Regions from separate parts of the Homo sapiens genome. Here region 2 is linked to region 1. The links come from fine-mapping of genetic effects on gene expression. A gene starts in region 1. The other region holds a variant in brackets. All regions are shown on one strand. Distances are between the middles of the regions. Region 1 holds the start of RO60 (Ro60, Y RNA binding protein). Region 2 overlaps CDC73 (cell division cycle 73).

Evidence for each region. PIP is the estimated chance that this variant, and not a neighbour inherited with it, causes the effect. A credible set is the group of variants that fine-mapping cannot tell apart.
Region 2: its variant is the best candidate, but not a certain one, in a credible set for the expression of RO60 in tibial artery (GTEx, PIP 0.62).

Annotation. Positions count from the first base shown.
Region 1 is chr1:193,055,379-193,070,634 of GRCh38, forward strand. It overlaps RO60 (Ro60, Y RNA binding protein), which reads left to right and starts at 4,234. Exons shown (of 9, transcript NM_001173524.2): 1 at 4,234-4,398; 2 at 13,656-14,256. The coding sequence starts at 13,677. It overlaps UCHL5 (ubiquitin C-terminal hydrolase L5), which reads right to left and starts at 3,982. Exons shown (of 11, transcript NM_001199261.3): 1 at 3,807-3,982. The coding sequence starts at 3,882. It also overlaps SCARNA18B. RefSeq lists enhancers at 3,334-3,643, 3,668-4,400, 3,804-4,333, 4,401-5,133.
Region 2 is chr1:193,161,088-193,176,343 of GRCh38, forward strand. The region is part of intron 10 of CDC73 (cell division cycle 73); the gene reads left to right. Among named protein-coding and RNA genes, the nearest start is that of B3GALT2, 18 kb to the right of the region's middle. The variant C/T (reference allele first, on the strand shown) is at 7,717.

The DNA of each region.
Region 1 (15,256 bases):
ACAGCCTCACTACTTGTGCAGCATCCACCAGAGCCCACCTCCAGCCTCATGGACTTGGAGGAAAAGGCAACCAATGTGAAAATGAATCTCCTGCTGCCTACTATGCTATAAGTAATACAACCCTTATCTCTAAACCAAAAGTTGTCTGCTAGCATCTATGAAACTGGCAAGCCAACTTATTTGCTGGCAAGCAGGATAAAATCTAACACTTAATAATTCTTAACAGATGTTAGATTTTGTCAAATGCCTTTTGCATCTATTGACATGATCATGTTTTTGATTTTTTGGCTTATTAATATGGTGCATTACATTGATTTTTTAAATGTTAAACCAATCCTAAATTACTGGGGTAAATCCCACTTAGTCATGATGTATTGTTCACTTAATGAATTACTAAATTCAATTTGGTAAAATGGTTTAAAATTTGTACATTTAAGTTAATGATGGATATAGGTCTGCAATTTTCTTTTCTAGTAATATCTTTGTCTGGTTTGGTGTCAGGATAATGCTGGTCCTCAGAAAATGAGTTGGGAAGCATTCCTTCCTCTCCAATTATTTTGGAAGAGTTTATGTAGAATTGGTATTATTTATAATATTAAATATTTGATAGAATTTACCAGTGAAGCCACCTTGGCTAGAATTTCTTTGTGGGAAAATTTTAAACTACAATTTCCATTTCTTTAATAAACACAGGGCATATACTGGTTATCTATTTCTTAAGTGAACTTTGGTAATTTGTGTCTTTAAAGGAATTTGTACATTTCATCTAAATTGTCAAATTTATTGGCATAGTTGTTCATAATATTATTTTTAATATCTGTAAAATTTTAGTGATGTCACCTCTCTCATTCCTATACTGAAATACAGGAACATCTCTTTTTTTCTGATCAGTCTGGCTAGAGTGATTCTATTGATCTTCCCCAAAAAACAGCTCTTAGTTTCATGTATTTTCTCCATTTTTTTCTCTTTTCTGTTCCACTAATTTCAACTCTGATCTTTATTATTTCCTGTCATCTGCTTACTCTAGGTTTTCTACTTTCTTATTAAAATGAAAGCTGGGGTCACTGGTTTGTTGTAAGAAAAATGAATCTAGTCCCCATTACTCTATCTTGGCTGTAACCAAATATTTACAGCTTCTGTTTTTATTAACAGACCATCACGGTTTGTTTTGGCACACATATGTATTATGTGTGGACCATACCAATTAAAAGTACAGTTCTGCTCCACCAGTTTCTTAATTTAATGATACTACATTCTACCAAAATCTGTATTTACATACTTACTGCATCTACAATTCATTTCCCTTTCAATGATGGAACTTTTGAAATGAATTTATGACAGCATTCACAATACAGGTATTTCATTTTTGAAAGAATCAACAGCCAAAAGCTTTTTTAAATCTATAAATTGGGTGAAAAAATGAAAATGATGGAAATAATTGGAATAAACTGATTTTCTCTTTGAAGCATCTGATGGTGACATAAACTACCACCATTTAATTGTTTGCAGGTTCTTCTGCTAATGAAGCCAATTTATTAATAGCTGCTGATTTTTCATATGTGCATGTACAGAAGATGAATTTATATATCATTCTTTCATGCATGATCTCCAAGTTTTCTGCACATATGAAATTGAAGGAGTAAAAACAAACTTACCTAGTACAACATTTCTGAAAGTTAACTTTAACATATTGTTAAGGTTTTGAACGTAAAATATATGACTAAATCTGCAGACATGTCAAACTCAGTGTCTGTCCAAATCTGAATCCATTTTCTTGTCCATCAAGCCTGCTCTTCACTTGTAAGAGTGTTTCACCAGCCACCCAGGCTAGAAACCAGGGAGTTATTTTTGCCTCTTTTTTTCCCCAACTTTTAGTAAGCAGTCCTTTTGATTTTTTTTCTCTTATGTAGGAGTAATATACTACCACTCAACCTCTACTGTAAGGTTGGCAGCCCTGAGAACTCCTTTTTTAATTTAGCGTGTTATGGATGTATTTCTGCTCCCAAAGGAATGAAGAGCAGACATTACCACATGCAACTGTTGATTTAAATATAGCAAACTTATTGAATCTAACTCCTCCTTCCTAACCCACTAGTTTAGCCAATCATCTCGGACTCCAACCATTTTAAGAGATGTCTAGCTTCTCTCACTTTATTCCAACCTGCCCTGCACACTTAAAAGCACAATAAACCTTAATTATGAAAATAATGTCATTTCAGCATTAAAATATATTTGATAGGTAAATCCCCAGTCACTACAGGGCAATTCAAACTATACAACATGGCATACAATCTGTCCTCAGTTTATCTTTTCAGTTTCAGATCCAAATAAATATTCCTCCAGTCTGCTATATTATGTTCTAGTCACTTTGCTAGCTGTTGGCTAACCCATATACTTTAACATCACTACTGTTTATGCTTTTCCTTCTGGCTGTGCTCCTCCATGACCTGTGTACTTTTAACATTTTGTATATACTCTAACATAGCAATTAACACACCATATTATAGTTTGACTGTCAATTATTCGAAACAGCAGTTATGGTTTATTCACATGAAAATTTCCCAATCCTTGGGTGGGCGCGTGGCTCACGCCTGTAATCCCAACACTTTGGGAGGCCGAGGCGGGTGGATCACGAGGTCAGGAGCTGAGACCAGCCTGGCCAGCATGGTGAAACCCTGTCTCTACTAAAAAAAAAAAAATTAGCCGGGCATGGTGGCGCGTGCCTGTAATCCCAGCTACTCGGGAGGCTGAAGTAGGAGATTCGCTTGACCCCGAGAGATGGAGGTTGCAGTGGGCCAAGATCGCGCCACTGCACTCCAGCCTGGGCGACAGAGCGAGACTCTGTCTCAAACAAAAAAAAGAAAATTTCCCAATCCTTACCACTGTGCCTGAGATATAGAAGATGAACAACATATGCTTGATAAATGACATTCCAAATATTAAGCTGTGTACAACAGGCAATATCTACATCAACGTTTAATTGTTAATCCCGCGTAAAAGTTTTAACATCGTAGAGTCAATAACACTTGGGAAATAGATAAAAACGTACTGTCCAAAGAAGAGACTAAGAACAAGATAAATAGGGAAGGATAAAAAGTAAAATGTGTTGATTATTTAGGACGAAAGGCACTAAATACAGCCAGAGAGAAACTGTGAGGAAAGCATGTGGCCTCTAGTCTAGAACACTAGCTCAAGAAAACTCACTTCACCGGAAGCCAGAAATGAGCAGAGAGCGGAACCAGTGAAGTGGCCTTTCAGGCCCACGCAGTCAGCGTGTGTGGACGTCCCGAAGAGCTATTCACACATTCAAGGCGTTCTGCTTTGAATAACCAGAATCTCGAGTTCCTGGGCGGCTTGAGCCGCAGACACCTCACCCTTGAGAAGGCGCACCCTAGGGTGGCTTCTGCAGGACTAATGGCCTGAGCAATGCACTTGACCTCACCAGCCCGGGATAAGGTGCGCGCCGCAGAGAAGGGGCAGTGCAAAGGGCAATACGTGCTTAAGAGCTTGGGGAGCGAGGGCCCTCAAGTCAATTACAGGATTTGGGTGCCAGGTCCTGAGGATGCAGCAGGCACAAGACTGACACGATCCTTGCCCTCGTGGTGTGGCTCTACAAATTACTGTGGAAACGCGACTGTCTCGAGCTGAGGAGAGGGCAGAACATCTACATTTCCCCCACCCGGACTCCAGGTTCCTGAAGTCACCTCTCCAGACGCGGGGCGGCGGTGGCCGCAGGGAACCACTCCATGCCCAGCTTGGGCCTCCTCCCGTGACCCCAGGCCCAGGACGGTCCCCTTGGTTCTCACCGAATCCTTTAATGAGCTCGGTGAAGACCCCGGGGTCGCTTTCCATGAGGCACCACTCCCCGGCATTGCCCGTCATGGCCCTGGCCACACACCGCCCCGATCCACCTCTCGCTCTCAGCTGCCCCCCGCACCAGCTGCCGCCGGCCACAGATCTCAGCAAACCCGCCGCCGAGCTCGTCAACCACACGTCACCCCGCCTACTTCCCGACAGCCTCCGGGCGCCGTCACCTGCAGCGCGACTGAGCGCGGGAGGACGCTCTAGCCACCCTAGAGACATCGAAACTCTTCCCAGGCCTTGCAGCACCCGTAGCGGATTCGGAAGGGCTGGGGCCTGAGAAGAAAGGGCGGTGATTCACAGCGCCGAGGAGGCAACATCCGGGATCCTCGCCCCTCTGGGGCGGAGGCGGGGCAAAAGAAGAGGGGCAGGACTCGTTCCCGGGAACCGAACCTGGAATCCCCGGCGGCAGTGGGGCTGTTGCTGTTGCTGTGGCTGTCGCTGCCCGTCAGGCTGCCTTCTTTTGTCGTTTCCCAGCGCTGCGCAGGACTTCTCCTGGCGGCGCTGCGGATCCAGGGGGTCGGCTGCCAGGTACAGGTGAGGACATTGCGGGAGGCCGGCTGGGAGCCTTTTGTGCGGCCCCAGGGACGCGCAAATTCTGACCAGTCCTCCATGTCTCTCACCCGCATCCCAGGGGTTGAGGCTGGGCAAACGCCGCGAAACTATCGCTCTTCCCCGTCCCGCTTCCGCGCCTGTCCACCCTGGGTAACGGAACCAGCATCGCGGTAGGGACATCCTCGCTAGGCCCGGCCGGACCATTCCTCAGGGTGGGCCCTTTCCGAAGCCGGGACCGCTCCTGCTTGTCGGCATCGCTCCCCACAGGCCGACGTCGAGAGGGCCTGCTTTACTCCTCCTCTTTCTCCTCCTTCTCCCGCGGCTTCTGCGCGGAGAGGCGTCGCCCGGGATCTGGGTTTTGGAAGAAGGATCTTTGTGGGAAGACAGGGTGAATTTATCACAGAGGAATAACGAGGGAGAGGAGAAAGGTTTGTCCATGGGGCTGCTAGACTAGTGGAAGGGGATGCGGTGCGTCAAGGGAAAATTAGGTTGAAAACAAATGTCGTGTATTAATCTAAAAACATTTGGAATGGTTCTAAAACTGGATGATGAGTTAAACCAAATATTTACTAAATATTTACTAAATTGCCCTCATTCAGCAGGCTCTTATAGAATACTATAGTGTTAAGATTAAAGTTTTTAAGAGTATATTGAAGTCGTTAAGTGTATATTTACTCCTTAAAAGCTACATATTCCAAGAAAGACCTTTGGCTTCCAGAAAAAAAAAATGTTTTAGTGGGTAAAACTCTGACTCCTTCCTTCTCAAATAGGTGACTTGTGCCCTGGAGTTAGGGAGCCTTGTGCTACAGATTATGTGAAGCCATGAAATAAACGTGGTAAATTTTATTGAGGGAAGCAACAGAGCAGCTTTTGTATTAAAAGGAGCCTGAGTACGCTATGGGGTAGAAGCCAAAATTTGTATGAAGTGTTGGTTTAAAAAAAATTTTTTTTGTAACTTTCTTGAAGTTTATCTCCGGAAACTCTGCCCTCAACTTGGAGACTAGGAGGATTCTGTACAGTATATTTCCTTGAGATACTTTATTGGAAAAGTTTAAGAGGCACAGAGTCCAGAATGATTGGCATCAGAGCCCAAAGTAGTTTGTGGTATTTTTTTTAATCTGTAATATTGCTATGAACTTGAAAATGTTTTCTGTGCAAAATACATCAAAACTAAAATGTACTTGATACCCAACTTAATTAACATGGTACCTATTGTAGAAAGACCAAACTGAAAATTTAGCCTTTGGCACAATCTAGAAGTAAGCAGAGAAGGGGGTTAAGATGCCTTTCATTATGTTAACGTTTAATCCTGAGAGTTTACATAAAAAGCCAGATTTCTGGGTCTTTGAGAAAAATGAGATCTGGCAACTACTAGTTCCATACCACGTGGCAACCAGTTGGCAGCTCCCCTCAGACTAGCATGCTGTCATTTTTGCCACAGTTCCTTCCTCATCAGTTTTTATAGCATCACATTGATCAGTGGATTCAGATACCTGTATCATGGGTAAACAAACCTCTATCATGGGCCCAATTTTCTATTGTTGTTTCTTTACATTTGTCATGCACTCTCATAGATATGTCAGCTTTGACTTCATTTAAAAAGGAATAATCTGCAAATGTGTTTGACTTCTTGAGATGAAAGGCAGCATTTTCAAATAAATTATAAAGAGACTTTGGAAGATATTGAGATGTGTAAATTCAAGAAAAATGTAGGATTCCTTGGAAATAACACATTAGTACTGATAAAAGATACTGTATATGCTGTAGTTCTGATGATTGTGAAACAAGTGCTATTATATAATGTGTGTTACTAGCATTTCCTGATTTTGCATTCTAAATTAAATTTAAAAGTAGAGAAATGGACATTGTATAAAATATCCACAACCAATTTAATATGCGGCCATGCTTGGCCGGGCACCGTGGCTCACGCCTGTAATCCCAGCACTTTGGGAGGCCCAGGCGGGTGGATCACGAGGTCAGGAGTTCAAGACCAGCCTGGCCAACATGGTGAAACCCCGTCTCTACTAAACATACAAAAAATTAGCCGGGTGCGGTGGCAGGCGCCTGTAATCCCAGCTACTCAGGAGGCTGAGGCAGGAGAATCGCTTGAACTCGGAGGGCGGAGGTTACAGTGAGTGGAGATCGCGCCACTACACTCCAGCCTGGGTGACAGAGTGAGAGTCTGTCTCAAAAAAAAAAAAAAAAGTGTCCATGCTTTTAATATTATAGTATTGTAATATTTAACTTCTCAAGAACTTAATTTATAGAGATTTAATACAACATTAGTTGTATGGTGTGTTTTAAGAGCACTAGATAGATAGGTCAGGCCCATCCAAAGAATTAACTATATCTTTTTGTTGTTAATCTGGATTTACAACACTTGATTATCCAGGAATGGATTAACTGATGACCAGGTTCTGACCTCACTCACTGCCCAATTGCCTTCTAAACCACTGATAATGGAGCTTAAGCTTTGAGGCAGGAGATGATGGCAGTTGGAGAAAGAAGAAATTAAGTTGCTGTATATGTCTTGTGGGTATCTCAAATTGCTTTTAAAAGTCAAATATAAAAATTGTAGGGCTAAATATAATTTTTGTGTAATCAATTGTATTGGTGCTCTCCATTCTGATATAGATAATAGCAGAGTTAAGTGCTTGTTTATTTAAATAACTTTCCAAATATATTTTACCTGGCTAGTTTATGTTTGTATTTTTAATAATAGATTTTTAGAATATAATTCACATATCATGAAGTTCACTATTTTGAAGTATCCAGTGCATTGGGTTCTAGTATATTCACGGAGTTGTGCAGTCATCACCACTAATTTCTGAACATTTTCATCACCCAAAAAGAAATCCCCTACCCATTAGCAGTCACTTCCCAGTGTTCCCCCACTCCGACAGCCTCTGACAACCTTAGACTAATGTACTTTTTATTTCTATGAATTTACCTACTCTGGAAAATTCATATAAATGGAATTGTAATACAATATGTGGCCTTTTGTGACTGGCTTCTTTGACTTGGCATAATGTTTTCAAGGTTTGTTTACATTGTGTCATGTATCACTACTTCATCCCTTTTTATTGTCTAATAATAGTCCATTGTATGGATATACCATATTTTTTTCATCCCTTCATCAGTTGATGGACATTTGGGTTGCTTCTCCTTTTTGACCGTTATGAGTAATGTTGATAAAAACATCTGGATACAACTTTTGGTTTAGATACATGTATTCATTTTTCTTAGGTGTGTGGTAGAATTCCTCGGTCATATGCTAACTATATTTAACCTTTTGAGAAACTGCCAGACTGTTTTCCAAAGTGGCTGTATGATTTTACATTCCCACCAGCAGTATATGAGCGTTTCATTTTCTCTAAATCCTCACCAACACTTAATATTATTGTTTTGATTATAGCTGTCCTAGTGGATGTGAAGTGGTATCTTATTGTGGTTTTGATTTGCATTTCCCTGATGACTAATGATGTTCGTCATCTTTTTATGTGTTTACTGGCCATTTGATAATCTTCTTTGGAAAAACACCTTTTCAGATTCTTTACCCATTTGTGTGTCTTTGGAGTAATATTCACATCTTTTGCCTATTTTTACTTGGGTTATTTATCATTTTATTATTAAGTTGTAAGTGTTCTTAATATATTCTAGATACAAGTCACTTATTGTATGTATGATTTGCAAATATTTTCCTTTTTCTTGGGTTGTCTTTTCACTTTCTTGATGGTGTCCTTGGAAATACAAGTTTTAAATTTTGATAAAGTCCAGTTTATTTTTTTATTTTGTCACTTTTGCCTTTGGTGTCTGCGTTCCAACACTAATTCTGTAGCATCAGCTGGGTGTCCCCCACTTCCGTTTAGTTCTGGCACTAGCTGCCCAGGGTTGGCATCAGATCCCACAAATTAAAGGACAAGGTCCCCACTAAGAATGCCATTAATTTGGACACCAGCTGTAAATGGGGTCCCCAGGCTACTCACACTTCTGCCCTGCGGACTACAAATTCAAGACTTCCCATAATCCCCTCAAGGCTGATAGTTCACTAGAATGACTCACATAACTCACTGAAAGTGCTCTACTTGCAATTACAGTTTTATTATAAGGGATACAACTCAGGAACAGCCAAACAAGAAGTAGACACATATGGCAAGGTCTGGGGCAAGGGAAGGATGCAGAACTTCCATGCCATCCTTGTGAAATGTGGGATACAACTCAGGAACAGCCAAACAGGAAGTAGACACATATGGCAAGGTCTGGGGCAAGGGAAGGATGCAGAACTTCCATGCCCATCCTTGTGAAATGTGGGCACATCACCTTCCCAGCACATCAGTTTTTGTTCACCAAGGATGCTCCACTGAGTATCGATGAAGAAAGTTTTTATGAGGTTTCATCACATGGGCATGATTGATTAAATCATTAGCTACATGGCTGAACTTGATCTCAAGTCCTCCTCCTTTCATGGAAGGTTGGCCTGACCAGTTTATTCCTCTAAACATATAGTTGGTCTTTCTAGTGATTAGCCCCCATCCTGAAGCTACCTAGGGGCCCATGTTGCCTCATTAATGTAACAAAGACACTCCTATTTCTCAGGAAATACCACGGGTTTTTGAAACTTTCTGCTGGGTATTATGTCCAAAGACCAGGTACTCTCTCTTATAAGATGCCACAGTATCACATCACTTTGCCGAATTTTGAGTTTATGTGTGTATCACACTCAGTGACAAGAAGGAGAGTAACTTGGGACATGTTATTCTGTTTTCTGTCTTTTAAAATATGAATATGACCCTGGTAAATTTATATAATCAAGTAGGAAGGTGCCCTGGCTGCTAATAATGTTATCTGTTCCACTGTTTTATGTTGCACTCTGGAAAGTACAGTCACAGAAGCATAGGAAAACCTGAGCAGTTTCTGCTGCAGAAATACTGAAAGGGTATGTCCTCAGGGTTGTCATTTATATCATAACATGCAAAAGGAAGAGTCCATGAATAAGTAACTTTATTTCTTCTAATAGGGATTATAAGGATTATACTTAGAGATTACCTCTTAGACATCCTTCATAGATTTAAAAGTTCATTTTGCTGCTTGCTCTAGAGAAGTACCTGAATACCTAATATTAAATATGTTAGAAAAACAGAAATTTTGTTCTTAGATGACATTTTTACTCAGTATTCATTACTTTTCTTTAGAACTTTATTTTTTCTTGATTATATTTTTCACTACCTGCATATAGTACATTTATCATTCTGATTACAGAATTTATCTTAAAGACTTGTATTATATTTTGCATTATAAATATTGAGGCTTTTATTCTCAAAATGTGTTATGGGAAAGAGAAACCAATTGTGCATAATTATTTGGCAAATGGTTCAGAAAGTCAACTTTAATGATATTTGGCTTTAAGTATGTATTGCTAATTACATAAAAGCAATACAAAAGAGGAGACAAAAATGATAAGATTTGGTTTCTACTTTCAAGGGAACCAATAATGTAGCTACATGTGGTCACAATGAATAATACAAGGAAAAGAATTTGAGGGGAGAGGGAATTTTGAGGTTTGGTTTGGGACCTTTTAAATCCCACCACTTGGGCCTTGGTGCAGGAAAGCAAGTTTAGTAGAATTATCTGATATTAGATGTCATTTCAGTGTTACTCATCTAACAAATAAAACTAATAAGCAGAAGTAGACAGGTTGAAGTGCAACCAGAGCCTGTTTTTATGAAAGCTGAGGGAGAGACTAGCAAAGTCTATGTAATGTAAAGATCAGAAAAACATAACATTGTCTACTGGAATTGGCAATTAAGGTATCAGTCTTTGAGAAGCATGTTAGTCTTCTTAAAGTGTTTTGGATCGAAAGGTAGAGATAAAAGCCAAATTTGAAAAGAGGATAATAATAAATAGGAGAACAGGCATCCACTGCAACAGGAGTTTCAACCTATGCTGTATTCAGTAACTATGAATTTGTCCCTAATGACTAATATGATCATTACATCTCTGATGCCACCTGAGACCTAGGCTTCCACTAACATAAGCAAATTTATACTAGCGTCTTATTTGGAATATTGACACTAATATTCCGAACACAATTCAGATCACTGTCCCCCTCAGTCACATTCAAAATGTGAGGCTCTTCATTCTCCCATGCACTTATCCCTACACCACTATGTGTTCCCCTCTCTGAGACCCAGTCTTTCATTCCTCCCCTCTCTACCAAACTTCTCCACATACCATTTGGCATTCTACATCTCCTGTCAGGGGGGAATGTCTTCAGTTTCCTTATCCCTCATTCCTTCAAATCTATCTTTACCTATACTCTTTACCCTTAAAAGATAAAGGAAATATCTCTTGCTGTCAGTAGGCCAGTCTCAACCTGGATGCTCTAAGCTCATTCTCATTTCTTTAAGAAATTCCTTCAGTTATCCCCCTTCTCTACTGTATCTTCAGCTCTCCAAATTGAATCTTTCAATGTTAGCATCTTCCCATTGAAAAAGGTAAAAAGATTTTTTCTCTAAGTCCCATCCTCTTTTACTTTCCTTCATAGTTTATAAGTATGTGTCTACAAAAGAGTAGTCTAGCTGTGAAGTTTCTTCCTCACTGCATATTCTCCTGATCTCACTGTAATCAAGCTACTTCTTATACCACTCTACTGCAGTTGCTCTCACTAGTCACTCCTACTTGCTAAACCCAGTGGTCATTTTCTAGCCTTTTATTTACTTTTCCTCTGACCATTTGAAATTACCAACCATTCACTCCTTGAAGTTCTCTTCCTTGTAGTCCATGATACTATTCTCTGTCGGTTTTCTTCAACTCTGTGCACCTCCTTTTCCGTCTCTCTTTAAAAGGCCTTTCTCTCATTAGCTTTTAATGGTTAATATTCACCAAGATTCTATCCTTAGCCTTCCTTGTAATATATAAACATGTTCAAGTAAGCATGATCTTCAGAACAAAACTTCTTTTATCTTGTGTTCCTCTTTAAGTTATGACCGTATCTGTCAACATGTCTTTATGGCTCTACAGGATGCTTAGACAGTTTCTTTTCTAGAATATAAAGACAGATCGAGATTTCAGAAACCTCTTCCTGGAGCGCCTTCCCTAAACTTTATCAGTTTTTTAGTTTGCCTTCTCTGCTCAAATCCTTCTGGATTATTTAGACAGTATTATTTTATACTTCCTTGCTCACTCACTTTTCCACTACAGCACTTAATCACAATTTGCCTTCTCTGCACAAATCTTTCTGGATTATTGAGACAATATTATTTTATACTCCCTTGCTCACTCATAATACTTTTCTACTACAGCACTTAACTACAGTTTGCATTGTGATTCTATCCCCACAAATGAGTGTGATTTTCCTGTGATGAGGAGAAAAAAAAATTTTTTTTCTTTCTTTTTTTTTTTTTTTTTTTGAGACAGAGTCTCGCTCTGTCCCCCAGGCTGGAGTGCAGTGGCAGGATCTTGGCTCACTGCAAGCTCCGCCTCCCGGGTTCACGCCATTCTCCTGCCTCAGCCTCCCTCCTGAGTAGCTGGGACTACAGCGCCTGCCAACACGCCCGGCTAATTTTTTGTATTTTTAGTAGAGACGGGGTTTCACCATTTTAGTCAGAATGGTCTTGATCTGACCTCGTGATCCGCCCGTCTCGGCCTCCCAAAGTGCTGGGATTACAGGCGTGAGCCACTGTGCCCGGCCCAAATTTTTTTTTTTTAGTCTCTTTAATGGGAGAGAAATTGTCTTCATGTCTTACACATAGTATGTATTCAGTAAATGCTGGTTTAAGTTTTTGTTGGTTGTGCTGTTTTGTTAGCCATGGACAGAAGCCCAGTGCACCGAAATAACATGACAGATTGAAGGACCTCAATAAACAGTGATACTGTAGTAACAATAGTGGTGGACTGATGAAGAAGTGACAATTGTGGTTCCTCCATTAGAAGGATAAAGAGGGATGTTGTTTCCAGACAGCTAGTTCTAGGAGTTTTAGAGCTAATGGAAGGAGTAGAGTGAGGGTAGTTACAGATGACATAAAACCGTAAACCTAAAAATGGCTTAAACAATAAGGATACATTTATGACATAATAGGAAGTGTATAAGCAGGGCAGTTTCAGGTAACCCGATATCAAGGACCCAGGTTCTTTGTTTTTTCTGTTCTGCTCTCTTTATATATTGGTGTGCCATCTTAAACTGGCTTATCTCAAGGTCTGAAGATGGTTGTTACCACTCCAGGCATCACTTGCAAATGAAAATGTCAGAAGGCAGAAAAGGGAACATTTCTTTTTAAGAGCCTGAGCCCCCTTTTAAGACTGAAGAAAACCTCAAAAGTGTTCTCAGCTGACTTATCATGTCATACTGGCCAGTCATGACACATGCCCAACTCCCTATACCAGTCATGTGGCAAGGAGAGCACCATGATTATTGGGCCTGGGTCAAGCAGCAGCAGCAGCTGGGAACTTGTGATAAGTATACATGCTTAGGCCTCACTGCAGACCTACTAAATTATGAAAGAAACTCAGGGCAGTGCCTGAGAGGGCTGACCCACCAATCTATGTTTCAATTAGTAATTCAAGTAATTTTGATGTACATTGAGTTTGAGAACCACTGGCTTAGAGCAATAAAGATCCATCCCTTGGGGCTAGGGAAAGGCCTAGCCTCCTTTGAAGGATATGAGGCCAAGAAGAGGAGAAGAGAGAAGGGGGAAGAATGAATGTTAGATAGGCAACCAAACATGTTTACACAATTCTTCAGGGAGTATGATCTTTCTTACTTAGTGCCAGCTACTATTGCTGCCCTCCCTTCTTTTATTCTCTGTGTGGGCCTCAAGATGCCATACTGATCTACCTGCTTAATCTCTGAAGGAGCACACTGTATCTCAAAAATGTGACGCCTTAGTTGCTTCTGATTATCACACCACTGTGGCTATGATTTGTTTGTTTGCTGTGAAGGGCTTTTAGTTTCTTTAGATTATAAAAATAGGAATACAAAACAAAAACACTTTAAAAACTGAAGATATTACTGGTAGTCATTTCAAAGTATTCAGATATGGTTTTTTTCTTTCATTTTCTGCCTTTCCTGATTTTTCTTCAGGACATTTATATTGATTTTGTACTAAGGGAAAAACTATGGAACTTAAAAGATGTTTTTAAATTAAAAGAGTTAATAACATTTCAGTAAACCTACATTTTGTTTTCCTTTTGTAATTTTATTGTGCCCATCTAGTTGTAATAACATTTTGCCTTTTTGTTAGGTTTCCTAAAGACAAAAAAAAATGGAGGAATCTGTAAACCAAATGCAGCCACTGAATGAGAAGCAGATAGCCAATTCTCAGGATGGATATGTATGGCAAGTCACTGACATGAATCGACTACACCGGTTCTTATGTTTCGGTTCTGAAGGTGGGACTTATTATATCAAAGAACAGAAGTTGGGCCTTGAAAATGCTGAAGCTTTAATTAGATTGATTGAAGATGGCAGAGGATGTGAAGTGATACAAGAAATAAAGTCATTTAGTCAAGAAGGCAGAACCACAAAGCAAGAGCCTATGCTCTTTGCACTTGCCATTTGTTCCCAGTGCTCCGACATAAGCACAAAACAAGCAGCATTTAAAGCTGTTTCTGAAGTTTGTCGCATTCCTACCCATCTCTTTACTTTTATCCAGTTTAAGAAAGATCTGAAGGAAAGCATGAAATGTGGCATGTGGGGTCGTGCCCTCCGGAAGGCTATAGCGGACTGGTACAATGAGAAAGGTGGCATGGCCCTTGCTCTGGCAGTTACAAAATATAAACAGAGAAATGGCTGGTCTCACAAAGATCTATTAAGATTGTCACATCTTAAACCTTCCAGTGAAGGTAAGCATAAGATCTTCATTGGGAAGAAGGGTGGGTAAGGGATATTCAATAAATAGCAAATTTTTATTTAACATAAGACAAGTGTGTAATATTTTCTAGAAATAGCCTTTTATTCTCAAAATATACATTAATTCAAATATATTTAATGCCTTCCTGGGATTACACCCCTACCACAGGCGATCCAGACATTAATAATCAAGAATCAAATGACAGGTTTATAGGTTAATATTCTGAATCTTAAAATGCCACCGTCCTAACTGGAATGCTCACCCAAGTGATTCTGGACTGTGTAAGTAGCAGGGGCAAGACTAAAAGTTGCAATAAGCCTTGGATATGGGTACAGTCACTAGAAGGAACTGCTTTTGAGTTCCAGCTTTGCCAGTTACTCATCAGATATTCAAACTTGGTCTCAGTATAATCGTTTGTAAAACTTAGGTAACTGTACACAGCTGTTCCTTAAGATTATGTATAGAAAACTACTCTGTAACCAATAAAATGCTAAGTAGAAAAGCAAAAAAAAAAAAAAAAAGTTGCAATAAGCAAATCAGCTCCTTGCCAGTAGGCGGCAGATGGCCATGCTGTACCCACTGCTCTAGCCCATTCCTTTTTTCCCTCCCCATCTTCCTAGGAACCCATCTTCCATGGAACCTAAAGGAATATACCAGATATAGTGCTGAACTTAACAATTCAGGAAGTTAATTGTCTTCAGGCAGTTAGTCAGGGGACATAATAACTTGGGGCAGTTTTTCTGTATCTATGGAAAGAGACTTTTGAAAAGTTAGTTGGCTCCGTAATAATTACTAGTCCTTTTAAGAAAAGAAATAAGAAAAACTCTTGGGCAGGAGTAATTTGAAGTGTGAAGTTCCACAAAAATCAACATGTTCAAAATTTGACTTTTTTTTTTTTTTTGCACCGGAAGTGAAACTTGAAAAGACAGCCACTCAGAAGGGTGGGTTCACATTTCAGTTCTGTGGACTTAAGCCAAGTAAGTTAAGCTGAG
Region 2 (15,256 bases), 110 kb after region 1:
TGATCTTTAATTCTAAGTTTTGGTTTCTTTTCCAGGTCTTTTTCTTGATGGATGTTTCTTTTAGTGTTGTTCTTCTTGTCTTTCCTGCTTCTCATGTTCCTCTGTGAGTGACTGTTCCCATGTTTTTTTTAAATACCTGTTTTTAAACTCTTACTTGCTTCTGGACTGGACAAATCTTGCTATTTAGAAACTAAGTTCTTATTTGAAATTTCAGAATGGTGCTTTGCACTGAATCCATTGAAGACATATTCACTTGAAATGCTTAGAAATGAAAAATTTTAAGATCTTACTTTTGTTTTAATTAGAGACAAAAGTCATACCATAGAACTCAGATAACTCACTGTTGAACTTGTCATATTTTATGGGTGTCATTGAAAAAGCTTTTATTTTTACATTTAGATTTTTGAAACTATATAAGATCAAATTAGAGTTTTATTTTGAAATCAAGTCAATTTAACTTTATTTATACACACGCATATATATATTATTATATAATATATAATAGATAATATATAATAGATAATATATATTATATGATAGATATATAATATATTATATAATATATAATATATTATATATCTATCATATAATATATATAATATATAATATATTATATATCTATCATATAATATAATATATATAATATATAATATATATCATATTATATTGTATATAATATATATCATATTATATTGTATATAATATATATCATATTATATTGTATATAATATATATCATATTATATTGTATATAATATATATCATATTATATTGTATATAATATATATCATATTATATTGTATATAATATATATCATATTATATTGTATATAATATATATCATATTATATTGTATATAATATATATCATATTATATTGTATATAATATATATCATATTATATTGTATATAATATATATCATATTATATTGTATATAATATATATCATATTATATTGTATATAATATATATCATATTATATTGTATATAATATATATCATATTATATTGTATATAATATATATCATATATTATCTATTATATTGTATATAATATATATTATATATTATCTATTATATTGTATATAATATATATTATATATTATCTATTATATTGTATATAATATATATTATATATTATCTATTATATTGTATATAATATATAATAAATATAGTATATATAATAGATAATATATAGTATATATGATATATTATATATACTATATATTATATATCATATATACTATATACTATATATTATATATACATATATATTATATATAGTGTATATATATATATACACATATGAAGACAGAGTCTCACTCTGTCGCTCAGGCTGGAGTGCAGTGGCATGATCTCAGCTCACTGCAGCCTCTGCCTCCCAGGTTCAAGCAATCCTCCTGCCTCAGCCTCCTGAGTAGCTGAGACTACAGGCGTGCACCACCACGGCCTGGCAATTTTTTGTATTTTTAGTAGAGATTTCACCATGTTGGCCATGCTGGTCTCGAACTCCTGACCTCAAGTAATCTGCCCACCTCAGGCTTCCAAAGTGCTGGGATTACAGGCGTGAGCCACCACACCCCGCCAGTTTAACATTTTTACACATTACAATTAAAATTGATTCAGTCTTTTATCATCCTCTACAGTGAATTCTGGACATTATCAATCCTGTAATCATTTACCTCCCCAAATTTGGTATTTTTGGAGAGATGCTCCAGTTTTTCTACAGTGTCTTTTTGTCATTTCTGTCTTATGTGTGGTGCCATAAATATTCTGGAATTGAATTCCTAATATATTTCATTATACCAAACTTGAGAACTAAAATAAAGCAGCTTTTTGATCTTTCAGAAGTTACTGAATTCTTACTTGTGTTCTATAGATGGCTTTTAGAAAATAACACCCCATTCAGCTTCTGATAGGATTATAATATTTTAGTAACTTATCTAGCTACACAAGGTATTTCACAATATCCTTAGGAATTACTGAGTTTTAGAGTGACAGAATAATTACCAATTATTCTGATAGTAAATTTGTAGGTACATTATAATTCATCAAGAACTTTGTGGGGTTGTGTGTGTGTGTGTGTGTGTGTGTGGGTGTGTGTGTATATTTTTTTTTTCCCCCTCCTAGAAAAGTTAACAGGCTGGGCGCAGTGGCTCATGCCTGTAATCCCTGCACTTTGGGAGGCTGAGGCGGGTGGATTCCTTGAGCCCAGAAGTTCGAGACCAGCTTGGGCAATTTGGCAAAATCCCGCCTCTACAAAAATATTCAAAAATTAGCCGAGCGTAGTGGTATGTGCCTGTAGTCTCAGGTACTCAGGAGGCTGAGGCAGGTAGATTGATTAAGCCCAGGAGGTCAAGGCTGTAGTGAGCCATGATTGCGCCACCACACTCCAGCGTGGGCAACAGAATGAGACCCTGCCCGCCCCCCAAAAAAAGAAGTTACTTTAAGAAGAAACTTCAAGAACGTAACTATTTAAATAACTTGATATTGGAAAATATTTTTCTTTACCTAGGTTAACTGCAGTAGACATAAATCATCTAATACTTTCTAATAAATTGATAGGTACCAATTTTGGGGCACCTGTGATAGACATTTGTATTATTTCTAACTTTCTGAGTCATCATTAATATTTTTGAAAAGTTTGTATAACTTTTAAAGCTTTAAACATCAGTGTAAAAAGGCTATAGTATAGTAGATTTTTTTGTTTTTTGAGATGGAGTCTCACTCTTGTCACCCAGGCTGGAGTGCAGTGGCGTGATCTGGATCAACTGCAACCTCCGCTTCCCAGGTTCAAGCTGTTCTCCTGCCTCAGTCTTCTGAGTAGCTGGTATTACAGGTGCCCGCCACCACACCCAGCTAATTTTTGTACTTTTTAGTAGATGGGGTTTCGCCATGTTGGCCAGGCTGGCCTTGAACTCCTGACCTCAAGTGATCGGTGGCCTCCCAAAGTGCTGGGATTGCAAGCATGAGCCACCATGCCCAGCCCAGTATAGTAGATTTTACAAAACTATGCTTCATTGTGTCATACTGGCAGTATTACATTTACATTTTATATTAGAAACCTCTTGTAGATCATCGAAGACTAGTCCATAGTACATAGTAACTGGTTCTAAGTGACTGAATAATTTCAGTCAACATATTTTCTGTGTAACAGATCAAAGGAGAAATAACTGCTGGTGATGAACAGCAGTGTGGAGGTTTTGTTGCCTATGGTTGATCAGCTGCCTGAATCCTGAGTTGTCTCATAGGGTGGCATTATGTTAGTAATTTGCTGTAGCCCAGAGAAAGGCTGAGAAACTAAGTAATGTTAGTATACCATGAGAAACTGATTCATTTTAATTAAGCTTATGAGAGTAGCATTTGAAATCAAATGCTGATTTATTAATTTGCAGTGATAAATGTAATTAACAAGGGCACTGGATTCTCACCTCTAGCACATAACATGTTCTCTGTGTAAAGCTACATTGGAAATCACAGTGTACTGTGCAATGAGCATATAATAAATTATATCCTTCAAATGTTTAGTGGTATTAAAGTAGTCTGTTATTTTTAACTCTTCATTAAAAAAAAGGACTTGTTGCAAGTCCAGGGTACCTTTCCCCTTGGGCACTGCTTAGATAGGTTTTGATTTGCCATTGTGATTTCTATTCCTTGTTGTGTCTGACTAATCCCTTGCCAGATGGATATGATGTGTTATTTCTTTAGATGTATAGATTACTGAGTCAACTTTAGGACTGTGTTTCATTCCATTCTATTTGATTTGTTAAAAAGTGTTGGTGAGGGAACTAGCTCTTTTGAATTTGGGATTTATAATGTAGATATCCAAAGGATCTGATTTATCACAGGAGAGGTGAGGAGCGATAGACTGACCTTTCTGCACGTTTGAGCTGTAAATTTAGGATTAGTCACATTTAGCTTTGTTGATTTGGAAGGGGAGAGAAGAGCAGGGATTTCCTGCTGGGTTTTGGAAATCTTTCTTTCTTTTTAAAGAGATGAGGTCTCACTACGTTGCCCAGGTTGGACTTGAACTCTGGGCTCAAGCCATCCTCCTGCCTTAAGTACCTGAGATTGCAGGTGTATGCCACTTTCCTCAGCATGGAAATCACTTTCTCTACCTTTCACTTATTACAGGTTGATAGTCAAATTAATGAGGCTCCTTAAACCTCACCCTCCCAATTAGTAATTTCAGTGCTGCAAAGACATTACAATTTAAGTGTTTCTTAGCATTGTATAAAAGTACTTAAGATTCAGAATGCAGTCAATATGAGTAAAAAATCAAATATGGTTAAAGTGCAAATAAAGTAGTATCATTGTAAAGTACAAATAGAGAAGTATAAAGAAGACTTTATGTATCAGTAGATAAGTAATAATTATATGTTGGGATGAACGTTTTACACAGTCTCAGGATGGACACATTAAAAAATTCTGCTGTGACATATTTGAAAGACGTGAAGATACATACAGCATAAATGCAAAGCATGAAATATTTTTCATAATTGGTGGATTGTGTAAAAGTTTTGTTTACATTTTACTCATTTGATTGTATTTACATAAAATGTATTTAGTGAAATTACCAGAACCATTTTCAGTAATAGAAGAAAATAATTAGTCTTTTTCTCTCTTTCACACATGGATGCATGCACATGCATTCGTATCTCTCTCTCCCTCCCACATATGCATAAAATTGATCAAAATGTGGTTGAGGTCTCCACTGGTACACTTAAGCTGAGCATGCTAACATTTGGTCTGTAAGGAACAACCTACCATTTTTATATGTGCCCTTATTTACTTACACTGTATTGATATTTGGTGTTTGCCCATAAAAATAAGCCAGCCATCCTTTCACTATGAGTTTTACATGTAAGTTCTGTTATGCCTTGTAATTTTAGGTTGACTTTGTTAAAAAACAATTATCAAGTTAGTCATAAAACCTAGTTTCCAAAACCAGTGTTTGTTATCTAAGCTGAACTCTTAGAAACTTTAATGTGAAATTATTTTTAATGATAATATAAAAATGAAGAGTCAGGTATGAGCAAAAGTAAGTAATATAGCAGGAGTTTGTATAGTTTAAGTGCATTTTTTTTTCTTTCTTTCTTTTTGGAAACAGGGTCTTGCTCTGTCACCCAGGCTGGAATGTAGTTGTACAGTTAGAGCTCATTGCAGCCTTTATTTCCTGGGCTCAATCACTGCTCCCACCTCAGCTGGGACCACAGGCATGCACTGCAATGCCCAGCTAATTTTGGTATATTTTGTAGAGACACGGTTCACTGTGTTGCCCGGGCTGGTCTCTAACGATCCTCCTGCTTTGGCTTCTCAAAGTGCAGAGATTACAGGTGTGAGCCACTGCGCCCAGCCTTAAGTGTGTTTTCATTATTGCCTTACATTTTTTAGTCTACAGTGATTTAAAATGGTTTAAATGTAATGATTTAAGTTGGGGATTGACAAACCTCTTCTTTAAAGGGCCAGAAACTAAGTACTTTAGGCTTACAGGCCGATAGACAAAACCACGGAAATTATGTAGGTGCTTATGTAACAAGAGATAAATCAAATTTTCACACTTTTTTTCTTTTTTTTTTTTTTTGAGACCGAGTTTTGCTCTTGTTGCCCCTGGAGTACAGTGGAGCTATCTTGGCTCACCACAACCTCTGCATACCAGGTTCAAGCGATTGTCCTGCCTCAGCCTTCCCGAGTAGCTGGGATTACAGTTATGCGCCACCACGCCCGGCTATTTTGTATTTTTAGCAGAGACGGGGTTTCTCCGTGTTGGTCAGGCTGGTCACAAATTTTTAATGACAAGTACAATGCATGATAATAATGTGCAATACTGATTTGATAATGAGAATAATGGAATTTCTTTTTGGGTGTGAGGGAACATTTTGCTTAATTGAAGTTCCAAGTTAGTGTTCTCTATGACCAAAATTGATTGCAAATTCATCAATGCTGGTTTATAATGAGATTTTATGTATTATTTCAAAATTCATTAACTATGTAATTGGGGAACTTCCACATAACCCTCCTTTGGCAGTGATAAATCTGCAAATAATCAAGAAAATAGTGTAGTAGAATTCTTAGATGGACTAAATTTGCCCATCTGAGCTGTTTTCAGCTCCACACATAGTTTTAACTACCATTTGTTTGGTAGCATCAGCATCTTAATAGATTCCCCTTCAGGTTGTACTTCATTAGTGTTTTCTGAACTACTTTGAAATTACTCCTGCCTGTAGTTTTTTTATGTAGGCTACTCATAGAGGCTAATTCCTCAGCCACTTCAAAACATGATTTGGACTCCTCGAATAAACCATAACTGAGTGGTATTAGTAACATGTTAACAAGCGCCAAAGAAAACCACTCAGTCATTTGCCTTGACTTCTGATTGACAATTGATGTTGCTACACCATGACCTCAACTCATTAAGCAGTAGTGAAAGGCTAATAGTCTAAAACAAATTTATTTCCTCTGAATACATTTTTGACTGCTTTAATCAAATCAAATTTAATTAATTAACCATAGATTAACCATTTTCCTTCCCTGGCTAACAAGGAACCTCTCAAATTTGCTTCACAGCCTAATTTTAATTTTTTAATTTTTGTAAAGAAATTTTGTGTTTTCTGACCATTCCTTTCATCTGAGTTGGGAATGTTGCAATGAGGGCTTAGTCTGGTAATATTTATATTGTATTCTTTTAGCACAGTTGTAGTGTCATTGCATTAGATGGTAAACAGTGCTTTGCCATCTGATTTTATTGTACATTAAAGAGCATACTACTTTTCTTGTGTTTTTTTGTTGTTTTTTTGAGATGGAATCTCACTCTGTTGCCCAGTCTTCAGTACAGTGGTGCAATCTTGGCTTACTGCAACCTCTGCCTCCCGGGTTCAAGCAGTTCTCCTGCCTCAGCCTCCTGAGTAGCTGGGATTACAGATGCCTGCCACCACGACTGGCTAATTTTTGTATTTTTAATAGAGACAGGGTTTCACCATGTTGGCCAGGCTGGTCCCAAACTCCTGACCTCAAGTGATCTGCCCGCCTCCACCTCTGAGTGCTGGGATTACAGGTGTGAGCCACTGTGCCTGGCCTCTTTTTGTTTTAATGTGATGAGTAGGTACCAGCCTCTTTTTGTTTTAATGTGGTGTAGGTACCAGTAATTAAAAAAATAAAATTCAGATGTCCTTATGTGACAAAATGCTTGGCACACAAAATGCTGTGTTTTGCATTCATCCAGGAAATGTTTGCTGTGTGCCTGCTGTATGCTAGGCAGTATTGTAGGCCCTGGGGATATAAATAGGAGGGAGGACAAACAAAATTTAGTGTTACATGCTTTTTGGAGGATTAAAGTAAGGTAAAGCAATATAATTGCATTTTTTGTGATTTGTATTGTGCCAACTGGCAGTGCTAACTAAACCTGAGAGTACCACATAAGGTTTCTGTTGTCCATGTTTAACTCTGCCTTTTTTTTTTTTTGAGACAGAGTCTCTCTCTGTCACCCAGATGGAATGCAGTAGCGCAATCTTGCCTCACTGCACCCTCCATTTCCCGGGTTCAAGCAGTTCTCTGGCCCAGCCTCCTGAGTAGCTGGGATTACAGGCGCCTGCCACCATGGCTGGCTAATTTTTGTATTTTTAGTAGAGACGGGGTTTCACCAAGTTGGCCAGGCTGGTCTCAAAACACCTGACGTCAGGTGATCCACCCGCCTCAGCCTCCCAAAGTGCTGGGATTACACG[C/T]GTGAGCCACAGCGTCTGGCTGACCTCTGCTGTTTTAAAGGCAGTCATCGACAATAGGTAAATGAATGAGTTTGGTTGCATTACAGTAAATCTTTATAGATGCTACAATTTGAATTTCGTGTAATTTTTACATTTTAAATAATACTTTTGATTATCTAGATTTTTTTTTCAACCATTTAAAGTGTAAAAACCAGTCTTGGCCTGTGTGCCATACAAAAACAAGTAGCAGCCTGGATTTGGCTCACTGCTGTATTTTGCTTACTCTTGACTTAAATTTTTATCAGTGGATATGGAGGCAACTGTTTATTTCTAATTCAAGTAATTAGTACTTGTCTCATTTTATGTCTTTAGAAATTGATGTTTAGATGAATTTTAAGAAGGATGCTATTTAAACACACCCATACCTGGCATATGCATTAAGTAAAAATATGAACTTTAACATTAAATTTGTGAGAATGATGCTGGGTATGGTGGCTCACACCTGTAATCCTAGCACTTGGGGAGGCCAAGGCCGGTGTATCACTTGAGGCCAGGAGTTCGAGACCAGCCTGGCCAACATGGTGAAATCCTGTCTCTACTAAAAATACAAAAATTAGCTGGGCGTGGTGGCACATGCCTATGATCCCAGCTGCTAAAGAGGCTGAGGTAGGAGGATCACTTGAGCCCAGGAACCAGAGGTCACAGTGAGCCAAGATCACATCACTGCACCCCAGCCTGGGCGACATAGCAAGACTCTGTCTCAAAAAAAAATAAAAAATAAATTTGTAAGAATGGAGGCAGTTGCATAATGGCTGATGCCTATGTACTGTAGATAAAATTACTTTCCTGTTTATCTTATGAGATGCAAGAATATTAAATGAAACTTGTTAATGATGAATTTGGATTTTATAAAGCAATAAGAGGCAATGCTGTAAGATGTATTTCCAAATGAGTTTTTGAAAATAAAATCCTGACAAATATTTTTTCTTAGTGTGATCCCTTTTGTAATTTTATTTCTTTTTTTTTTAACTTTTAAGTTCAGGGGTACATGTGCAGGTTTGTTACACATGTAAACTTGTGTCATGGGGGTTTGTTGTACAGATTATTTCATCACCCAGGTATTAAGCCTAATACCCATTAGTTATTTTTTCTGATCCTCTCTCTCTGCTCTCCACCCTCCGACAGGCCCCAGTATGTGTGATTCCCCTCTATGTATCTGTGTATTATCATCATTTAGCTGCCACTTATACGTGAGAACATGTGGTATTTGTTTTTTTTTCCTGTGTTAGTTTGCTAAGGATAATGGTCTCTAGCTCCATCCATGTCCCTGCAAAGGATATGATCTCATTCTTTTTTATCACTGCATAGTATTCCATGGTGTATATGTAACATTTTCTTTATCCAGTCTATCATTGATGGGTATTTAGGTTGATTCCATGTCTTTGCTACTTTGACTAGTGCTGCAGTGAATATACGCATGCATGTGTCTTTATAATAGAATGATTTATATTCCTTTGAGTATATAACCAGTAATGAGATTGCTGGGTTCAGTGGTATTTCTCTCTTTAGGTCTTTGAGGAATCACCACAGTTTCTTTCACAATAGTTGAATTAATTTACACTTTCATCAACAATGTGTAAGCCTACCTTTTTCTACACAACTTTGCCAGCATCTTGTTTTTTGATAGCCGTTCTGACTGGCGTGAGATGGTATCTTTACTGTGGTTTTGATTTCCATTTCTCTAATGATTAGTGATGTTGAGCTTGTTTTCATATGATTGTTGGTGATGTATGTCTTCTTTGGAAAAGTGATCATGCCCTTTGCCTACTTTTTAATGATTTTTGTTGTTGTTGTTGTTTATTTGTTTAAGTTCCATATAGATGCTGGATATTTGACCTTTGTTGGATGCATAGTTTGCAAAAATTTTCCCATATTTTGTTGGTTTTCTTTTTACTCTGTTGATAGTTTCTTTTGCTGTGCAGAATCTCTTTTGCTTAGATCCTATTTGTCATCTTTTGCTTTTGTTGAGTTACTTTTGATGTCTAATTATCCCATCAAGTAAGTGCTACACCCTGAACTGGAGGCAACATCTTTCTAAAACACATCTGTGAGCAAAGGGGGCACAGCCACATTTTGTGGGAGATGCATTTCAGCATCAGGAGGCAGTTAAGTCTGCACAGGTTATCCAAGGACTATATGGATAACTCACAAGTGTTTACCCCTCCAGAGAAAAGCCCTGTGTGATAACTGCTGTCTTTCAACTGTGGAGACTGAGGCACACACTGGCAAGCAAATTGCTTTAGGAACTATTGGCAAACAGGATCAAGAAAGAATTAGCCTCTGCTGAACACTGCACATGGTTGAGTCTGTGTCCCAGCTATCAGGGTATCAATCTGTCTAGGTCCCAGCGATATTCCCAGTACCTGGCAGAGTTCTTGGGACAAAGTAGATACCTCTGTTCATTTTCTATTGTCACAGTAATAAATTACTAGAAGTTTGGCAGCTTAAAACATTCTCTTACAGTTCTGTAAATCCAAGGTTCAGGTATATCGTGGCTTAGGGAGAGGCCTCCACTTAGAGTCTCATAGACTGAAGTCAAGGTGTCAACAGCAATGTGTTCCTTTTGGGAAACTTAGGGGAAGGACCCACTTCCAAGTTCCTTCGGGTTGTTGATTGAATTCAGTTCCTTGTGATTTTAAGACTGAGGTCCCTGATTGTTTGCTGGATGTAAACTGAGGGCTAGTTCAACCTTCAGGAGGCCACTTGGTTCATGGCCTCCTTCATCTTGAAAGTCAGCATTGGTGGATACAGTCCCTCTCATGCTTTGACTCTCCCTTGTTCTTCTTCTCTTCTGCTGTGTTTCTCTCTAACTCTTCTCCCTTCCTCTTAAGGGTCCATGTGATTATACTGGGCCAATCAGGAAAATCTCCCTATTTTAAAGTTATCTGCAAAGTAACTTTGCCATGTAATGTTAAAATATTCACAGGTTCTGGGGGCTAGGGCGAATGGAAATCTTTGGAGAACCATTGTTCTGCATACCACCACACTCAATCAATATTTTTTAATAAATGAAAAAAAGATGTATTTGTTAGTGTTGGAAGAATAAAAATTTTATGAATTTTTGGTTGCTTAATGTTAAACAGAGTTGATTTTTGTTTGTTTTGAGACAGAGTCTTTCTCTGTCGCCCAGGCTGGAGTGCAGTGGCATCTCAGCTCACTGCAACCTCTGTCTCCTGGATTCAAGTGATTTTCCTGCGTCAGCCTACCCAGTAGCTGGGACTACAGGTGTGCGCCACCACACCTGGCTAATATTTGTATTTTTAGTTTGGATGGGGTTTCACCGTGTTGGCTAGGTTGGTCTCAAATGTCTGACCTCAAGTGATTCACCCACCTCGGCCTCCCAAAGTGTTGGGATTACAGGCGTGAGCCACTGCGCCTGGCTGATTTTTGGTACCTTTTTTTTTTTTTTTTTTAAGAAAATTACTTAAAATGAGTAATATTTATGCTAAGATATCCAACTGATTTATAACAGCATATGATAAAGTTATGAGGTTTCTTTTTTTTGTATTGATTTGCAGTGGAAAGATAAGCAGTTGATTGGTGAGAGACTGCTGAGTTTGATGACAGATTAGGAGAGCAGGACAGTATAAATAGATTAGGGAAGAAGAGAGAATTAGTGAGCCAACCTTCCTGCAGGTTATAGAGCCTTTTATGTGTTCCTACCTTAAATATGCTAAGATCCGAGAGATGGATAGTTCATCCCAGTTAACATAAATGAAGAGTTCTCTTTCAGTTCTTGTCATTTTTTTGACAACCCGGGAACCATCTTGTATGGCCCACTTGCCTAAGTCAAGCATTCCATCACTCTTCCATTCAGACGTTTTGCTTTCTATCAGTTGTGAAGACTACAGTTACCTGGCACTGCATCCTTTTTCCCTCTTCCTTTTGCCATCCTGTGTTCTGAATTGTCAGGTCCACCTAAATAGAAGGCCTAAACTTGATTGTTACTTGGTAACTTAAGACTATAAGATTATTGTTCCTAAACCATTGCTGTATCTAATACCAAGATGTACCAGTTTGATCAAAGACTTAATTTTCTAGGCCCAGACAACTGACATAATGGATTTAGGTTTATTTTTTCTTTGAAATGAGTGCATGAGTGCCTTAAGATAGAGTACATAGTCAAAAAATATGAATACTATAGCAAGTTTTAGGGATTCTTGCAGTCTTCCTGAGCACAGTGGTGGAGAAAAGAGGAAAATCCCTGGTTACATTGCACACTCATCAAGTCAGGCAACCTGGCCTAGGGCAACATAAGCCTAGAGAAAGGAGTCTTGTTCTCTGGTTTGCTCTCTGCAGGTTGTGCTTTTTTGTGATCTTTTTCCTTTAGAGAGGCTCCTTATTGTGAAGCAGCTGTTAAAAGGGTATGCCTTATTCTATTTCTTTTTCTTGGTTTTCTTAATTACTTAATTATAAAACATTTCTAACGTAAATATAATGAGAGAAAATAGCACGTGATCTTCCATCTTCCCATCACACAGATTGTATAATTACCATTTTTAAAGGCTCTCCTTATCTGTTCCACCTCTTCCTTTTTTTTCTAAAGTATTTAAATGCAAAATCTAAACACTGTGATTTTGTTCCTGCACACTTTGCCTCTCTTAAACATATGGACATCTTTTACATAGCCACAGTGCCATTGTATACAACAAAATAAATAATATTGATGTAATCCTAACACACAGTTCATTTTACAGTTTCGATTTCCTGAAAATTGTCTTTTTGTAATTCGTTTGTTGGAAATAAGACCCAAACAAGCACCATAAATTGCGTTTAGTTGTTAGGAATCTCAAGTATCTTTTGCTGTAGTTCATAATTTTTTTGTGCCATTGGTGCATTTGGCAGACTGGAAATCCTGTGAATCCTCTTTCTGAATATATTTTTAAGGCATAAAAGAAAATACATAAGATAAAACCAATTGTATTTAAAGTAAAATCAAGATATTTTTTAAAAACACATTTATGACATGATTTGTGCTTCTTTACTAATGCATTATGTAACATGATCTAGTGGCAAATTTGATAAATACCAGATTTTAGAAGTCTAATGAGCATATGTAATTTTGGGATATCTTTATTCTAATATGTTATGAAAAAATCTGATTTTTGTTGGTGACAAAGTTGTAACCATTTATAATAATAATACTGTGGTTTATCTGCATTCCTGAAGAAAGTCTTAATTTCATTAAGAGATTAATGAAAATAAAATTGTAAATTTTTTTCCCATTACGTTTCTTCTGAATTCTATCCACAATTCCATGCTCTAAAGGGGCAGTACATATTAAGAAAGGTCTTGGCTACAAGTCTTCTCGGTGGCTTTTTCTAAGTTTTTCAACAACTTGACAAGTTCTTTACCTCTTAGCCTTTCTCCTTCCAGTTGTTTGTCTGGAACATTCTTCCTCTTGCTCTTAATAAGACTGATTCCTTCTCATAATTCAGATCTCAGTTCATCAGCAACTTTTTCAGGACCCTTTTTCTTCTAGTTATCTTGTTGTTCATTTGTTTCCTTTGATAATCTTTCTTTAAATATATGAATTTGAAGGTAGAAACTATGTCTTTCTTGCCTTCCACTATATCTCCAGTACTGAGAACAGAGTATTTTGCATGTAAATGTTGCTTGAAAAGTATTTTCAAATGAATCTGAAGCCTATGTTATACATTATATTTTTAGTTATTTTCCATACTTTCATATGGGTGTAGAGTGGTAATTGTAATTCATTATTACTGTTAATGATGCTTTGTAATATATAGGCCCTCAAGTGCCACTTGACAATCCTTTCATACATTGCTTGGTGATTCTTTATTACATTGTTCCTGGCGAATCAGATTCTTTATACAGTGTTTTCTTTCTCAGTAAATGGCACTGTCAGTGTTCAGGCCAGTGTTCTAGGCATCATCCTTGTCACTTACTCCTCTCTCATCTCTAGTATCCAGCCATCATGAAGGCCTGTAGACCTTACTTGCTGACATCTCTGGAATTCCTTCTCTCCATGTCACTACTACCCTTTCTCACTATAGAGAAAACTTGATTTGATACTGTAAAACATTTTCCTTTAAATGAAATGAAAATGCTTTAAACGAAAAGAGTGAGACTGTTTCATTGAGTCAAGTTGTAATTCACTATTCCTTATCCAGGAATTTTTTGTTTTTTTCTTTTAAATAAGTCTCGAGGGAGAGAGAATAATTTACAGTGAGATAGAAGGTATGAATGGGATCAAAAGATTGGGTAGAGGGATTAGCTTTAGCAAGGAAGAGAATCATTTATGGGCCTTGTAGCTGGCCAAGGGTTTTAGGGATTTTGGTATATAGTACCTTGAGAAGCCATTGAAGCAGTGGGATGGCATGCCTAGCTTTGTGTTTTGAAAGTAACATTATGGCTGTAATATTGGCAACAGATTATGTGGATATGAGGAAACTGGCTATAAAGGTATTGCAGTAGTTAAAAAATGAGTGATGCTGTTTTAAATAGGGGCAAGATGAAGAAAAGTAGATGGATTCCAGTAGGGATCCAAGTAAGTCTTTGGGTTAAATGGATATGGGCAATAGCAAGAGAAAGAAGTGGCAAAGGTGATGATAGAAGATAACTTAGGTTTTAGTTCATATTAAGTGTACATGACTTACAGACATACAGACACAGTTGGCACTTCATATCCGTGGGTTCCACATCCGTAGATTTAACCAACTGCCGATCGAAAATATTAAAAACAAAAAACAAAAAAACCAAACCCAGAACGCCTGTGCTGAACATGTATAGACTTTTGTGTGAGTTATTTTTTTCTTAAACAATACAGCATAACAACTATTTACATAGCATTTAAATTGTATTAGGTATCATAAGTAATCTAGAGATTACTTAAAGTATGCAGGAGGATGTGCATATTTTATATGCAAACAGTATGCCATTTTATAAAAGGGACTTGAGCATCTGTGGATTTTGGTGTCTGCAGAGAGTCCTGGAGCCAATTCCCCACAGATACAGAGGTATAATTGTACTCTAAATTAGAGGTTTTGCTTATGACCTTTGATTAAAACTTTACTTTTGTAAAAATCAAGTTTACTTGTCTTTTTTTTGCTCAGTTATTAGCTTTCTCTCTGAAGTATATAGGAGTCATTCTCTTCCCTCTCTTGCATGAATCTGTTAGGAAGAAGATTGTAGTTATTTTTTTTTCATTAACCTTTTCAGAAGACAAACAGATCCCTGATAAGGGAATAAAATTTTAAACACATTTTTAAAACAAATTTTAAATGTTAAGCAAATGTGAAACATTGGGCTAGTTTTCTTTGTTCATTAATTTCTAGGCTCAGACAACATTTTGCATTGTATCAGGCCCAGGCAGTCAGTTTTTGTGGTTACTTTTGGGGCTGTGTTGGCCCTCCCTCATGGTGGTGTGACCCTAGGAACATAGGCCCCTAAACCGTTTCCCTGATCTTTTCCCAGTAATAAGGCATTTATTGCAACATAGCATCAACTCCATTATGTTGTATACACAAGAACTGTTTTG